2 separate regions of the Homo sapiens genome follow, and region 1 is linked to region 2. A link means that fine-mapping ties the variant in region 2 to the expression of a gene that starts in the linked region. Tissue or cell type: whole blood. Region 2 holds a variant in brackets; the other region holds the start of a gene. All regions are shown on one strand. Distances are from middle to middle.

Region 1 (8,102 bases), 180 kb after region 2:
GCATTTATTTTTAGAGATGAAAGTGCATTCCCCAATGCAAGAATTCTCTTTACAATTTCTCTGACAGCCAACCTTTACATGAACAGCTCTGGGACAGACTACTCTGTAAGATATACACAGAGTTGGATGGCCATAGTGTTATAAAACCTTCCTTTCAAACTCTGCCTTCCTAATTTCTACCTATTTATCTTAGTTCTGCCCAACTTCAGGTTTCTGCCTTGGAACAAGGAAAATTATATACTGATGCCAATCATAAAAAATGGAAATCTAACAAACAAAAACCATTTCTGTTTAACGTTTCTATCTAGTACTATGAAGCATAATTATTTTATCCATAGCCACAGACACACATACATGTATACACACAAACATACATATACATATATACACATGGATATATCAGATTATGTTTTCAGTTTTATTTGCCACATACTATTATTATGACCACAGAAGAAAATATATTCATTCTCTCAGACTTTACAAGTGTTATTCAAATTCACAATCATGTGCTTATGCAAAATGATCGTCCTGATATTTTTACTGGCAGGGAGGGAAAACATTCCCACAGTGGCTTATATACTGAAGACACTCACCAAATATTTGCTGAAGATATGTTGCTTGAAACAAAATCTCATTTAAAAAAAAATCAGGCCAGGCACGGTGGCTCACACCTGTAATCCTAGTACTTTGATTTAGGAGGCTGAGGTGGGTGGATCGCTTGAGGTCAGGAGTGCGATACTAGCCTGGTCAACATGATGAAAACCCCAACTCTACTAAAAATACAAAAATTAGCCAGGCATGGTGGCGGGCACCTGTAGTCCCAGTTACTCAGGAGGCTGAGGCAGGAGAATCGGTTGAATCCAGGAGGCAGAGGTTGCAGTGAGCTGAGATCACGCCACGCCACTGCACTCCAGCTTGGGCAACAGAGCGAGACTCCGTCTCAAAAAAAAAAAAAAAAAATCAAACTGAGTTTTAATCTAGCTATGCTGGGACAGCCCCACAGTGGCCTGCATAATAATGAATGACCATTCATTAAATAGTTGCTGAATATTGTTTGAAAAATCAGATTATGTAGAACAAACTTTAAAAACAACTAGGTCTTAAATAATAAAATTAGATATACCTACAATATATTAATTCAGGTCTGAAAATATCATGTTGAAATCCCAACCTTTTCCAAATGCATAACATTAAAAACATCAGATCAGCACTAGGGTCCCAAGAGTATCTCCACATTTATGTAATCATCATCACATTAGCCCTGACTTCACATAGGCAAATCTTGTTCTGGTGCAAACCAGTCAACAATAAAAGGCTAAAGTTAACATCTGAGTTGCTACCAACTATAATTCATTTTGACTATGATAAATCAAATTTTAGCAACCGATCATCAGTTAGATGCCACTATTGAGTCCACAGTGACTAGATTTCAAATTCAAATGTGTTGGCACTGACTATGCAAACCTACCAGTGTTGTAGTAGGAGCAGAAACAGTCGCTTTCAGACTACTCAGTTCCTGCTGGATTAATTTTTCTTCTTCCTGAGAAAGTGAAAATATTTAAATGCTTGATTAACTGTCTTTTAAAACTGTAACAGCATTTATCTAAACGGAAAAATATAATTTACAATACTTTTAATTTAAAAGAAACATTATTTTAAAGGAGAGTTACAAATACTATCTGCTTACGATCTATCTAAAGGCATTTCTCCAAACCTCAGAACCATCCCTGGAGAGAATAAATATTTCCAGGCTAACCCATCCTTCCTCTTTTCTTTACTCAGTTACTTCCCCTTAATGGTAGAATAGCAGAAAATGTTTTTTTTTAAAACTAAAGGTGGAAGCCGGGCACAACAGCTCATGCCTGTAATCCCAGCACTTTGGGAGGCCAAGGCGAGTGAATCACTTGAGGTCAGCAGTTTGAGACCAGCCTGGCCAACATGGCAAAACCCCGTCCCTACTAAAAATACAAACATTAGCTGGGGGTCCTGTAATCCCAGATACTCGAGAGGCTGAGGCAGGGGCAGGAGAATCGCTTGAACCCGGGAAGTGAATGTTGCAGTGAGCCGAGATCGTACCACTGCACTCCAGCCTGGGTAACAGAGCAAGACTCCATCTAAAAAAAAAAAAAAAAAAAAAATTAAAGGTGGAGAGAGAGTAGAAATTCTCCATGTATTGGCCCAAGAAAAGAGTCTCATCTCACATCTTCCCCTTAGAAGTAAAAAGTCTTCATGGAATTAAGAAACAGGGTAAGAAAGCAGAAACAGAAATAGGTCTTTTTCCCTTAAACTACATTCTTCTTCCCTGTCTTTTCCTCATTCCCCAAATCCTTTCCATAACTTCCTATCTCAGACACATACCAATGTGGTCACTCCTACTGTCTGCATTGTATGTTATCTCCCTAAGCACTTAAAAAATTGGCCCCATTTTTTTTTGGCTAATATCATGCTACCTTTAAATTACACACTGAATTACATGTTCATCAGATGGCTATTCAAAAGCCACTAGTGACGTACTGATACACGTGGATGCCTATCTACAGTTTCAAACTGCTATTTAAGACCAAAAATAACTTTTTAAAAAATTTTATTGAGGATCCCTTAAAAATTAGCAAAGGACAAAAACCTTAAGAAAAACAACATTATTAAGGCCACAAATGGCCAGGCGTGGTGGCTCACGCCTGTAATCCCAGCACTTTGGGAGGCCAAGGCCAAGGCAGGTGGATTACCTGAGGTCAGGAGTTCAAGACCAGCCTGGCCAACATGGCGAAACCCTGTCTCTACTAAAAATATAAAAATTAGCCGGGTATGGTGACGTGTGCCTGTAATCCCAGCTACCAGGGAGGCTGAGGCAGAAGAATCACTTGAACCCAGGAAGCAGAAGTTGCAGTGAGCCAAGATTGCACCACTGCATTCCAGCCTGGGCGACAGAGTGAGACTCCATCTCAAAAACAAAACAAAACAAGACAAGCCCACAAGTAATGATTCTGGAATGTGAAGCAGGTTCTCTCCGGATAGCATCAACTTATTAGAGCTGCCAAAAAAATATTTTTTTTAAACCTTCAGAGCACTTTCTTTTCTGTCTTTCCTTCTCTTTTAGCACTTCTATTGCATTGTAGTCATGCTTATACTTGTCTTAAGCCCAAAACGAATGACTAATTCCTTGGGAAAAGGGAATGTGTTTAATTCTATTTTCCTGTGTCTAACACATAACCTTGTTCCATAAACATCTGTTGAACAAATAATGACATTAACACGTGCTCTTTTTAAGATATAAACTCCTTGTAGCTGTGAATCGGTATACTACACAATCCGTGCAACCATCGAGCGCCTGTGGGGGCCCGGCGCGGTGGCTCATGCCTGTAATCCCAGCACTTTGGGAGGCCGAAGTGAGCGAACACTTGAGGTCAGTTCAAGACCAGCCTGCCCAACATGGTGAAATCCTGTCTCTACTAAAAATACAAAAATTAGCCGGGCGTAGTGGCATACGCCTATAATCCCAGCTACTTGGGAGGCTGAGGCAGGAGAATCGCTTGAACCCGGGAGGCAGACGCTCCAGTGAGCCAAGATCGCACCATCGCACTCCAGCCTGGGCGACAGAGCGAGACTCCGTCATTAAAAATTTAAAAATTTTAAGGCCGGGCAGGGTAGCTCACGCACGTAATCCCAACACTTTGGGACGCCAAGGCGGGCGGATCGCGAGGTCAGGAGATCGAGACCATCCTCGCTAACACGGTGAAACCCCGTCTCTACGAAAAGTACAAAAAATTAGCCAGGCAGTGGCGGGCACTTGTAGTCCCAGCTACTCGGGAAGCTGAGGCAGGAGAATGGCGTGAACCCGGAAGGCGGAGCTTGTAGTGAGCCCAGATCGCGCCACTGCACTCCAGCCTGCGCGACAGAGCGAGACTCCGTCTCAAAAAAAAACAAAAATTAAAATTTTTAAAACCTTAAGGCTCCAGCGAGCCGAGATCGAGATCGCACCATTGCACTCCAGCCTGGGCGACAGAGAGAGACTCCGTCAATAAAAATTTAAAAATTTTAAAAGTTTAAGAATTTTTATAACTGCTCATTTTCAAAGCCCACTTGAGGCAGAGACTTAGCAAATTTTACATTTTGAGAGAACTGTGCTTTTTCTTTGCCCAACACGTTGTTGTAACCCAAGAACCTCAAGCTCCCCAAAGATATTCAACAAGAGGCTCACAGGATCTCTTCAGGTATGCGACATCTGAACTGTTGTTCAGTTGAAGGCACCGGGGGAGAGAAGGAAACTGAGTAGGGAAAAAAAACTTTGTGGAAGGTAAATAATGTCTGACACTTCCATCGCACTAGGTATTTTCACACGCTTGACATCTCACCCAATCCTCAAAACAAACAAAAAACCTATGAATTATGTATCAGTACTTTTCCACCACAACGTTGAGAAAACACACGGAGGCTCAGAGGTTACAGAGATGTGCCCCCGATCAAAGAGTCAGTGTCAGAACTAACTGTGGAAACTCGGCTTCCCTGCTGTCAGTCCCAGCAGGAAAGTGAAGCTTCCAGGCAGACGAAAGGACGAACCGACACAGCAGCCCCTGAGCCCCGCCGGAGGGCTAACCCCAGAGGCCCTGAAGTCTCGCCGCCCGGCCAGGGCCTCCTGGCGCGGGGGCCTCACTCCGATGTCCCTGAGCTCCCGGGCCGGCGGGCACCTACGTGCTTGGAGGTGAGGGCTGTGATGCCGCGGACAAGGCTGCCCAGCCTCGAGGAGAAGGACGCCTTGGCGGCCGCGGGCCCACCACCGGGCTGGTTCTGCAGAAAGAGTCCCGGCAGCGCCGTCAGCGTCTTCTCCACTATGTCGCTCATCGCCGCCGCCGCCCGCGATGCCGCCGCCGCCCGCGATCCCGTAGCCGCCCGGCTTCATGCCCGGCCGCCGCTGCCGGCCCGGCCTCCGTAGGCACTTCCTGTTTTTTGAATAAGAAATCTTTATTGGCGTCCCACCTGAACAAGTTCAGCGTCGTTCTCGCGAGAGGCCACCAGAGGGCGCAAGAGACCGCGGGGGTGGAAAAGGCCGCTCGCTCGAGATTGCGCGCGTAAGTAGACCTCCTTTCTCGCGACGGGGTAGCGGTTCCGGAATCCCCCAGAACCGTGAGTCCTCCTGAGGAAGCCGTCGGGGGCCTGGCCCTGTTAGGCACTGTCTCCCAGAGTCCCCCTTTCCCACTAGCCGCCTCCGCGTAGCCCGAGACCGCGTCAGGAGTTGCGTCTTCCTGGCTGCGCCTTTTTCGGGACGTCCCCGCGCCGTCCGCCGCCTCTCACTGTCCCCGGAGCGCGCGCCACCCGCCCGCTTCCCACAGGCGGTTTCACGCGGGTCCCCGGCGCCGCGCGCGGCTCCGGCCCTGGCGACTCTTGGGACACCCGAGTAGTTGCGTGATAGCGGGGCTGTCCTGAGGATTCGGCGTGCCAGGTTGAGAGCCCGTCGCGTGCCGGGGACTCGCGGCCACTGTCGCTTCCCGTCCGCCCCTCTTCTCCTGGGATTTGGGGAGGTGGGCGGGAAAGAGAACTGGTCGGCGGCCACCCTTGCCGACTCCTCCTCAGCAGGTCGCAGTTGAAAGGTCATCCTTCTAGAGCCCACTCCCCTGGCCCGGCGGGCAAGGATAGGTCTCCAAGTCCCACCCTCTCACAGCGCTCGGTTCTGTTCCACTTTAGAACAGGTCGCAGTTGCCACTACGTAAACAGCTCCCCATAGAGAGAGTATTTTATTCATTCCGATTGCTCCGTCTTTTATCTAGAACAGAGTCTGGTACAATGGCTCTCGAAATGTGGTCTGGTGACCTCAGGGTCGCTGAGACCCTTCTAGGGAATTCACAAAGTCAAAACAACATTGATAACGTTTCTTACGTGTTATTTGCCGTTTTTACCCTCATTCTGTTGGAAATGTACAGAGTTTTCAAGCGGCTAGATGACGATTGACTAGCTGGTAAAATGTATCCTGGAGTATCCTTGTGTTTTCTAGAATTTTCTAAGGTAGTAGGTTTAGGGCATAAATACGTGCGTTTTCAGAGATTAATGCAATTTGCTCTCAGTACTCCTAGTGTGTTTCTAGGAGGTAGGTTAGGTAGGTGGTGATAGCCTCCCTTCAAGGGGAACAAACTTGCTAAATAAATAGAACAAACCAGCCCATAGTGTACAAACCACATCCGAGGCTCCTGGTTAGAAAATTTTGCAGCAAAGAGGTACGAGAGCAGAAGGGAAAATCCCCAAACTCTCACAAGCGCAGAAACCCATGATCAGTGTCGTTGGGCTGAATTATACTCATTATAATAGTAAAAAAAAAAAAAAAAAAAAAACACCACTCCTGGGTGAAGATTTAAGATACTAATAAGACATGCAGTGTATGTACTAGCATATACAACCACAGCGCACATGGCGACAGAAAACCAGAGAACGTGCTTAATAGCAGCACCCGTTCTCCCCGCTTCATGAATGATCCTGTGAGACTCCTACAAAGGGAGTTTCCCCAGTGTCAGTGCATGCTGTCTCACCTTTGAGCAGCCCGCTCTGATCAGCTGTGAGGGTGTACTTTCGCTTTGCAATAAACTCTTTTGCTTGCTTTTACTTTGGACTTCAAAATTATTTTGCACCGCGAAGTCCAGAACCTCAACCGGCCCACCAGCTACAGCTACACTTACAAGCTATCTTCGGTTATACCTGCTCTAATCTCTGTAACCTCCTTGTCACCTAATAAATGAGTTTTTTTGAAATCCTGAAGTTGTTTTAATACCTATATGGGAACATAAGAAAAAAGTTCAATTTGTTGGCTTGTCTCGCAAGAATATTTTTTAATATATTGAGAACATTTTAAAATATTTAAACTTTATCTAAAAGGGATACTCATTTATTCATTTAATTTTTTTTTTTTCAGAGTCTCGCTCTATCACCCAGACTGGAATGCAGTGGCACAATCTGGGTTCACTGCAGCCTCCTCCCCCTGGGTTCAAGCAATTCTCCTGCCTCAGCCTCCCGAGTAGCTGGGATTACAGGCGCCCGCCACCATGCCCGGCTAATTTTTGTATTTTTAGTAAACACAGAGTTTCACCATTTTGGCCAGGCTGGTCTCGAACTCCTGACCTCAGGTGATCCGCCCACCTCAGCCTCCCAAAGTGCTGGGATTACAAGCGCGAGCCACTGCGCCCAGCCAGAAAGGGATACTCTTTTAGAATTTAATTTTGTTATTTTATTATTATTTTTTGAGATGGTGTCTCGCTCTGTTGCCCAGGATGGAGTGCAGTGGTGTGATCTCGGCCCACTGCAACCTCCGCCTCCCAGGTTCAAGCAGTTCTCCTGCCTCAGCCTCCCGAGTAGCTGGGATTACAGGTGCGTGCCACCACACCCGGCTAATTTTTTGTATTTTTAGTAGAGATGTGGTTTCACCACGTTGGCCAGGATGGCCTCGGTCTCCTGACCTCATGATCTGCCCGCCTCAGCCACTCAAAGTGCTGGGATTACAGGTGTGAGCCACCACGCCCTGCCTAGAATTTAATATTTTGTCGTCCGGGCGCGGTGGTTTATGCCTATATTCTAGCACTTTGGGAGGCCAAGGCGGGCAGATTGTCTGAGCTCAGGAGTTCCAGACCAACCTGGCCAACATGGTGAAACCCCGTCTCTACTAAAAATACAAAATATTCGGACAGGCACGGTGGCTCCCACCTGTAATCACAGCACTTTGGGAGGCCAAGGTGCACAGACCACAAGGTCAGGATATCAAGACCAGCCTGGCCAACCTATGACTCTACTAAAAAAATACAGAAATTAGCCGGGCATGGTGGCGTGCGCCCGTAATCCCAGCTACTCGGGAGGCTGAGGCAGGAGAATTGCTGGGACCCGGGAGGCGGAGGTTGCAGTGAGCCGAGATTTCACCACTGCACTCCAGCGTGGGCGACAGAGCAAGACTCCACCTCAAAAAAAAAAAAATACAAAAAATTTAGCCGGGCATGGTGGCACACCTGTAGTCCCAACTACTTGGGAAGCTGAGGCAGGAGAATTGCTTGAACCTAGGAGGCGAAGGTTGCAGTGAGCCAAGATCGCACCACTGTACTCCAGCCTGGGTGACAGAGCAAGACTCTGTCTCC
Region 2 (8,107 bases):
CGGGTGGGCTGGGGCTGGGGAGGACGGGAGGCTGGGGCATGAAATCGGGAAGCCGATCCTCAGCAGCCCGACCCCTTCCAGGCCAAGACTGGGGATTGCTCCGCGTCGTGAGTTTGCTTTGGGGCTTCCCCCAACCCCATTGCACTTGGGCGCGCGGGAGGGAGGGAAGGTGCATTTAGGGGTGGCTCTCCTTGCTGCCAGTCTCCCGCGGCGGGCTCTGGTCGCCCGGGCTGGGTGGGGGCGGGGAAGGGTTCGGGAATCCGCGTACTGTAGTTTGCTGCAGAGAGGGTTGCAACACATCTGCCTTTTGAAATAACTTTCCGAGCGCGGGCCGGGTCCTCGAACCTGGGGCGCCGGGACTGCGCTGCGGCGCAGGTGACTGGGTCCAAGAACGTGACTGGGGGCTCTGAACAGAAAAGGCCTCGCGAGTGGTTGGGGCAGGGGTCAAACCACAGCTTGCGGCCGCGGTTCCCGAGGCTGCTAGGAGAGCCCATGCACAGGGTCCATCGCTGCCGCGCAGCCGGCGGAGAAGGTCCAGAAGGTCCCCGCGGACTGGTCCCCGAACACAGACGCAGGGGCGCGCGCCTCCCGACTTCGCCTTTAAGAGGCCCCGCCGGCTTTTCACAATCGATAGTTATTAAAGCAATAGGTGGATGCTTACTTAGGGAAGAAAAAAAATGAATGTCCTCCCCCGCCTCTCCCTGATACTGAGCAACAGGAGGAAGCCACCCACAGCCGTGGGTCGACTTGCCGCCGGTCTCTGCCCACCTCCACCGGTCCGCTCCGCCCCCCACCCACGGGTCTACGCACCTAGGACCCGCTCGCCCTCCTCACGTGCCCACAGCTCCCGGCGCTTGTGCAGCTCTGAAGGTTAGCTGTGGGCCTGCAGACCCGTGACCTGCGGGCTGGGACCCTCCTGTACAGACCGCGGCCCTGGCTAAGCCCCCACTCTTCCCAGTGTCACACTAGAGTACTGACGGTGGGGACCAAGTAACAGAAGGCACCATCAGTCCAGCCGTGGGTGTAGGAAAGAGAGGTTCGGGAACCAAGCAGGACAGTGCCCTGCGTATATTATTAATACCCTTTCATCCTCACAGCCCCTGGCCAGGCAGTTATTTTCATTTTACAGAGATTCCCATAGAGTAAAGGGCTTGCCCACTTCTCACAGCCAGGGAGTAGCCAGGACCCAGTGACGCCCTTCACCCTGCATCAGACCCCACAGAGGGTGGCTGTGGCCCGCACCTTTGGGTGGGTGGGAAGGGCCAAGGCTGGCGGAAAGGAAATGCCAAGATGCGTGTATTTAAGGATTCCTGTGTGTGTGCAAGTGCCACCTGCTTTGCCTAGGTATGATATAATTCATAAACATGAGCCCTTTGCATGCCTGTATGTTTCTGTGACTATAAAGTGCTGAGATTTTGCTTCACAGGTGACTTGTGGATCTCCTCTCATCATTTAAAAGTTCCAGTAGATGTTTTGTGTGTATCTATTTCGAGAGCGCAAGCGGGAAGGGGACATTGACCCTGACGCTTAACTCTCTCAAAATCCTAAGAACAACATTCTCTGTGCTCCCCTGCCCAACCCTCTATCTCTTCTTCTGGTTGAAGTTAAGGGGTTGAGGGAGAAGCGGGAGGAGGATAAGGAGGCTTAGAGAAAGAGGAAGGAAGAGAAGCCGGGGGCAGGGAGGAGAATCTTCAGAATCCCTGGTACTTGGGTGAAAGGGAAGGAAAAGAATTCTGCTGCACCCTGTTGTTTTCTCTCTCCAGCCTGACCCAGTGTTTAATATCCCTGTTGTATTCACGGTCAGTTTGTGTCAGAAGGCCTCTGCGTAGCTGACAGCAAACATCACTAAGGTCAGATGGGCCCCATGAAGAACAGGGCAGACAGCTCTCGTGAGCTGTCACTATTTGTTTGCACCTTACTGTTTTCTGCAGTTGTTTCTTCTTTCTGCGTGTGCTTGAATCTCACACGTTGAACATGTATTTTAATGTCACAAGCCATTCTGCTAAATGGCAGTCAGTCTCACGCATTATATTCCATCTTAAAGTATTCTCCTGTATGACAGTGCTTCAAAGCTGGATGTTAATTCACCACCTTGCTAGGGCTGCATCCTGTCAAATGGAAACCGTTGTTGCAGATTCAGATACAGGTTAGATAACAGGTGTGTTCTCCTTAGAGATTGACCTTTGTCTCTACAAGAAACTTGACATTCATCCATGGACCTGTATCTATGAAAGCTGAATGGGTGTAACTGAGAAGTACAGCAGAGTGAGTGGGACCTCTTGGAGTACTTATATGTGTGTGTGTACCTGCCTCACAGGGAGTTGAGACATAAGGGCTGCTTCCTCATCCATGCCTTTCCATTTCCTGAATTTATGAAAAAGCCCTGCCATAAGATGGACATTGTAAGTGTAAAAGGCTGGACTCTGGAATTGAACAGACCTGAGTTTCAGTCTGCACCTCATGGGCAAGTTATTTAACATCTCCAACCTCAGTTTCCCACTCTGTAAAATGAGGATAACAGTAGTACCACAGGGGTTTATGAAGATTCAGTATAATAACACGAGAGGTGTTCCTGGTAATCATTTAGTAAATGGTAGCTGTTATTTTGATTATTACCTGATTGGATTATTTGTTGTAAGAATACTGCTAAATAATGAACTCTAGTGTTTTAAAATATAAATGCATGTTTAAAACAATTAATGTTGCTGCTGTTATTATCACATTAATATAACTGCCTAAAGAGATTTGTTTTGAATTTTCTCCTTTTCAGTCTCTTGTTCATTATCTCTGGTGTGTGCACGTGTGTGTGTGTGTGTGTGTGTGTGTGTGTGTGTGTGTGTGCTTGAGGAGGTCTTTTTAGTTTACCTCTTCTCATCTTCATCCATCTTCCAGCACAAGGCATGAAGATGGGGATATTCCAACCTGCTGCTTTCACCAGCTTCTCCTATGCCTCTAGGGAAAGTTATAAAAAAAACAGAACCCCTTACTCAGTCCACCTGCTAATGTGGAGATGAAAGCGTTTCTTCTTTCATGGTGCTTCAAGTGGAAGAAGAGGAGGCAATCCCCTGCCCTCCACCTCCCACATTCCATTGGTAAACCTTTTCCCTTCAAGGTGGCAGGAACCATCATGGTCACCTTTCTAGTCACCTATTGGCAGAGGACAAAGACAACTCACTTTTTACTGTACTACTTTCAAGAGACTCTTCCAAAGTTCCCCCCACTTTGTGCGTGCAGAGCAGATCTCTCATAGAGCAACACGCTGCAGTGGAGGGTGGGGCGGAGGATGAAATTTGTCTCCATCTGCATTTTCTGTTTTTCAGGAAGCACAGAATGATGCTTCTATGTCATTGTGCTGCCTGCATTCTCCTCTGCCTTTCTGTCATTTTATGGATCTTTCTATGATTAGGGAAGAGGCAAGGTTTATGGAACACTGGATTCTTTCCAGAGACCCAACTTGGCACTCTTTCCTTTGGCAAACCCACCATCCATCTCTCAGAAATCCTAGAGCTTGGTGTATTCACTTGGGAGTGGTTAAGTCTTTCCTAAGAAGCAACAGGAGAGTAAACAGCGACGTCAGTTTTTTCCCCTTTCTGGCTTGGAAGATCAAGACAGCCTACCCAGCTGAGGGCAGATAAGCTCCTTCCTCCCACAAATAGATGGTCCAGGGCAATCAAGCTGATGGTGCCCTTGTGCCTGGGTCGGTGCTGCAGAAAAGCATTTCCATGTGATGGAGTCAGAATGTGGTAGGGGAACCACAAGAGAAAAACAGGACTGGGAAAACACCAGGCCCCTAACTCTGCCCTTCCTCTCCCTCTCCTCCCCTACATGCTTAGCTTGGTCCACATGAACCAACTGAAGGAATGGATAGGATTCAATAGGATCCTGTTGAGGAGGTGGCAGGTGAAAGGGAAAGACATTCCAGAAGTCATACAGCTTGAGAAAAGACACAAATAAACAGGAAGGCAGCTAGAGTAGAGGGCGCATACTGGGGAGTTCTGGGAGATAAAGCTAAGCGAGTACAGGGAGTAAGTTGGTCTTGGCAGGGCTTCTGGAGCCCCCATGATTCTTGAGCAGAGATGTGACCAAATGAAAGCTGAGTTTTCAGAATGTACATCTGGCAGAGATGGAGAGATGCAAGATTTGCCTGGACTTGGCACCTCAACTCCCAGGGTATGGCCACAACATCAGAGAAGGTAGTGGCACTAAGGCAAGATGGAAGAGGGAGGGTGCAAATGGCATTTCAGAGAAATCAACAACAGAAGTTGGTGACAGATTGTACAAAAGCAGTGAAAGGAGAGGGAGAGTTGAAGGAGACAGTGACATGTTGTGTTGGGTAACGTTCTCTGGAGGCA[G/A]GGAAATGCAGGAGACAGGCTCCCCCACCCCACAGACGCTGCCTCTTCCTTCAGGCACTTAGCAGTGGTGTTTGGGGTAAAGATTCTTTTCCCCTTTGACATTAAGTTTCTCAGGTGCATTAGTTTTGAGGCACTGTGAGGTTTGAGGGTTTGTTGATTCTCATTGCTAGGTTCCTTGCAGAGGCTGTTTAGTAATCTTTGTCTACTGACAGATTGAAGATAAATGGGCTGGCCTGCTAAGGGCAAGGACAGCCTGGGAATGATGTGCCATTTGGTTATTAGTCATATTCCCATTTCTTGTTCCTGTTTGTTGAAATTTGCACGGATCTCTGCCTCATCCACAGAGTAAGCTGTAGCTGCTTTCGGAGTCAGGACCTTGTCTTGTGCTTCTTCATGTTCCTGGGATTTTATGGACATAGTAAGTGAATGAGCATCTTGAGGAACCTCCTAAGAACTTTGCCCTAAAAGGCCAGACCAGCAGCCAGAAACCTGTCCTATAAAGTAGACAGGATGCCAAGGCTTTCCCTCAGTGTTTTGTTTTGTTTTAGTGTTTTAAGATTTCTGTACTGTCTGGGACTCTGTGTTAGGAATTATGGGAAATGCAAAGAGAGATAAGGACACAGTTCACCCTGTCCTCCAGGACTTGACATTGGATGAGGAGACAGGGTATGTCTACTGATGACCACAGCCTAAGCCAGTGCATGAAGACTCCTCACCTCCCTTACCTGGCATCATATCCACAACCACATATCCCTTGACACCAGCCCTTCCTATTGCATACTTTATGGTTATTCCTGTGCTGGACTGTTAGTTAGCTTCCTAAGGACAAGGACTGGGTCTTTTTCATCTGTATCAGCCCATGCCACCCATGTCCCCTAAGCATAGTGGCAGGTTGCTGGCTGAATAGGTAGGTGGGTGGGTGGGCGGATGGATGGATGGATGAATGGATGGTGTTGTGGGTTGGTTTGCTAGGAAGCAGACTGTGAGATGGAGGTCAGCAGCATGTACAAGGTTTATTTGGGACTTCTCTTGGAATTAATAACTGTAGAAGGCAAGGGAAAAAAGGGGGAAGGGAAGGGAGCAGGACTGGGCAGAGAAGCTGAGCTACCATGTAGACCCAACAGCCTCAGTTGAGCCCATGGGAACTCTGGAGCTAGAATGGCTCATCAGAACTATTCTGAGTTGGGGTGAGAGGCCAGGTCTTTATACCTTTACACCCCCAAAATAAGCAGTCATTAAAGGCAAGTCATTTCAAGGAACTAGGAATAACCTTGAGTGAGGCTGTTCCCTCCAGCTGAGGGCTTCTGCAGGTAGCACTACCAGCCACTTGTGGAGGAAGTCCTTTGTTCCTGAAGGGGAGTCCGTGCAGCACATGGCAGTGGTCACCACAGGTGGCCTCCACAGATCTTTAGGACTGTTTACTAGGGATGGCAGGCCTGTCTACCAGCAGAATTCAGGGGATAGTTGTTGAACTGCAAACTTTGTCTAGACCTCTTTGGGGCAGTTTCGGTTGCCAGATTAAAGTGGCCATTCTAGACCTCATAGCTCTGAATCCAACTGTTCAATCCACACAGTCCAGTAGATGCTGGCTGATCAGCTGTTTTGTGTTCAGAGTGGTGCCAGGTGCTGTGATAGTATACAGAAATGCATTTAGATGTGCTCCTGCCTTCCAGAGGTTTGTAGCCATATTGGGGAGAGAAAACCCACCTCAAACTGGATCTGTAAAACTGGGCAGCACCAGCAGTAATTGGTGCAGGATTTGGAGCATAGGGCAATGTGATTTGGAATTCTAGTGGGAAGGCTTCTTAAGGTGAAGACTGAGTGTATATGAATATATACATGGAAAGCTCTATTTCCTATGTTATTTTTCTCATAAAAAATACAGCACTTGCCTTTTTATTTGTCAACAAAGCTAAATTTTAGTCACACTTTCTATTAGCATAGTTCCCTAACTGGTTCATTTCCCTTCAGCATTACCCTTGGCTCCCATTCGAATTCACATGTAAATCTCTATAAAGACACTACATAAATAACTTTGTTTTGTTTTTCAGTCACTTGGCTTCCAACTCTTTATGTAAAATGCCTATGTAGGTGGATGTTTGGGCTGTATTCTATACAAATATAGAAATAAAAGGATAGAGAAGAAGAATTTAAAAGACAAGTTTCCTCTAAAAATCCAATCCAAAAAATCATATCAGGAGAGCAAATATCCTCCCCCTTCCCATATATATATATATATATATATAAAGGTATGCTAGAAAAATTTTATTTTATTACATATCAGAAATGTTCTTTTTAGGCAATGGCATGGGACAAATTCTGAGTCTGCTTTAGAACAATCTTCACGTTCATATTGGGTTTCCTAAGCATCATTGCCTGGGAATAAATTTGAGCCTGTTCATGGAAAATCTACCAGTGTGCATACTGTAAAAATGGAAGGCTTGGCAGCACAGAAAGTGCTAGACACACCCTAATAGAAACCAGTATTTTGTAACTCAGTTCTCTGGGAAAAAAAGGAGACACTTGGTGGTGTCCAATATTGCTTTAAACTATTGAAAAACCACAGGGGCAGCCACTGGCTTCTAGGTTGTGTTTCAGAAGTAAAATGTGCTTTCTGGGAAAATATTCTGGCCATGAAAGGAAGCATGTTAGCCATACGTAGCTTCATGGAGACTCCTGGTTTATATTTTTGTAGTAGAAGCATCCAGTTTCACATGAGGGAGGAGATTCTGGAAGGAGCTGTTGCTAGTGAGCACACACATCCCACACTCCTGATTTGGAGCCTGTGGGTTATGCTGGGAAGGTGGGCAAATACGAAGTCAAATACGGGAGGTAGGTGAGGGGAGCCATCTGCCCAGCAGGCCTCTGTGGCAGCTCTTTCCTGCCACAATTGAGTCATGGCTCCTTGGTTTCCTTTGGATAAGACTGAGAAAGTGAGGGTGGGAAGGCTGGGATTGGGGGTTACAGGATAAGAGAAACCAGGGTTTAAGAAATTGTGAGCTGGGTGCAGTGGCTCACGCCTGTAATCCCAGCACTTTGGGAGGCTGAGGCGGGTGGATCACCTGAGGTCAGAAGTTCAAGACCAGCCATCTCTACTAAAAATACAAAAATTAGCTGGGCATGGTGGTGCATGCCTGCAATCCTAGCTACTCGGGAGGCTGAGGCAGGAGAATTGCTTGAACTCGGGAGGCAGAAGTTGCAGTGAGCCTAGATCGTGCCACTGCACTCCAGCCTGGGCAAAAGAGAGACTCTGACTCCAAAAAAAAAAAAAGAAGTTGTAGCAAAACAAGATGAGAAATAAGATGGCATGATCCTTGCCAGCCCAAGGTCAGCCCCAGAGGGCTGTTACTGAACATAAAAGTATAATGATGTTTTACTTTTTATTTATCCTATATTAATTAAGCACTTACAATGTATTCGGGACTGGGTTAATTGTTTATATGGTAGTTGATCCTTATACCAGCCTTCTGGGCTATGTACTATAAATAGCCCCAATTTATAGAACAGAAAACCAAACACAGAGAGGTTAAGTAACCTGCTCAGGGTTGCACAGCTTGTCAGTAGAAATGAAGCCAGTCTAACTCCAGAGACTCTTCTCTTGCACCAGGTAGACTACGTAATTAGATTCACGGATGCCACCAGGCTGTCTTGCATCCCCCACACAGCTCCCACGGTTCCCAGAACCCTAACCCTTAGGCTCCCTCTGTTAGGTGAGGGCATTCTGCCTCCACAAAGGCCTGCTTTAAGCTGCAGAC

What was found. PIP is the estimated chance that this variant, and not a neighbour inherited with it, causes the effect.
Region 1: AP4E1 starts here. The variant in region 2 is fine-mapped to the expression of AP4E1 in whole blood (TOPMed, PIP above 0.99).

What each region holds. Positions count from the first base shown.
Region 1 is chr15:50,905,516-50,913,617 of GRCh38, reverse strand. It overlaps AP4E1 (adaptor related protein complex 4 subunit epsilon 1), which reads right to left and starts at 4,935. Exons shown (of 21, transcript NM_007347.5): 1 at 4,690-4,935; 2 at 1,469-1,540. The coding sequence starts at 4,839. RefSeq lists enhancers at 3,859-4,600, 4,647-4,816, 4,837-5,126, 4,601-5,342.
Region 2 is chr15:51,086,411-51,094,517 of GRCh38, reverse strand. The region is part of intron 1 of TNFAIP8L3 (TNF alpha induced protein 8 like 3); the gene reads left to right. All of the region lies in intron 1 of MIR4713HG (MIR4713 host gene), which reads right to left. Among named protein-coding and RNA genes, the nearest start is that of TNFAIP8L3, 4.4 kb to the left of the region's middle. RefSeq lists a silencer at 88-137 and an enhancer at 1-590. The variant G/A (reference allele first, on the strand shown) is at 4,353.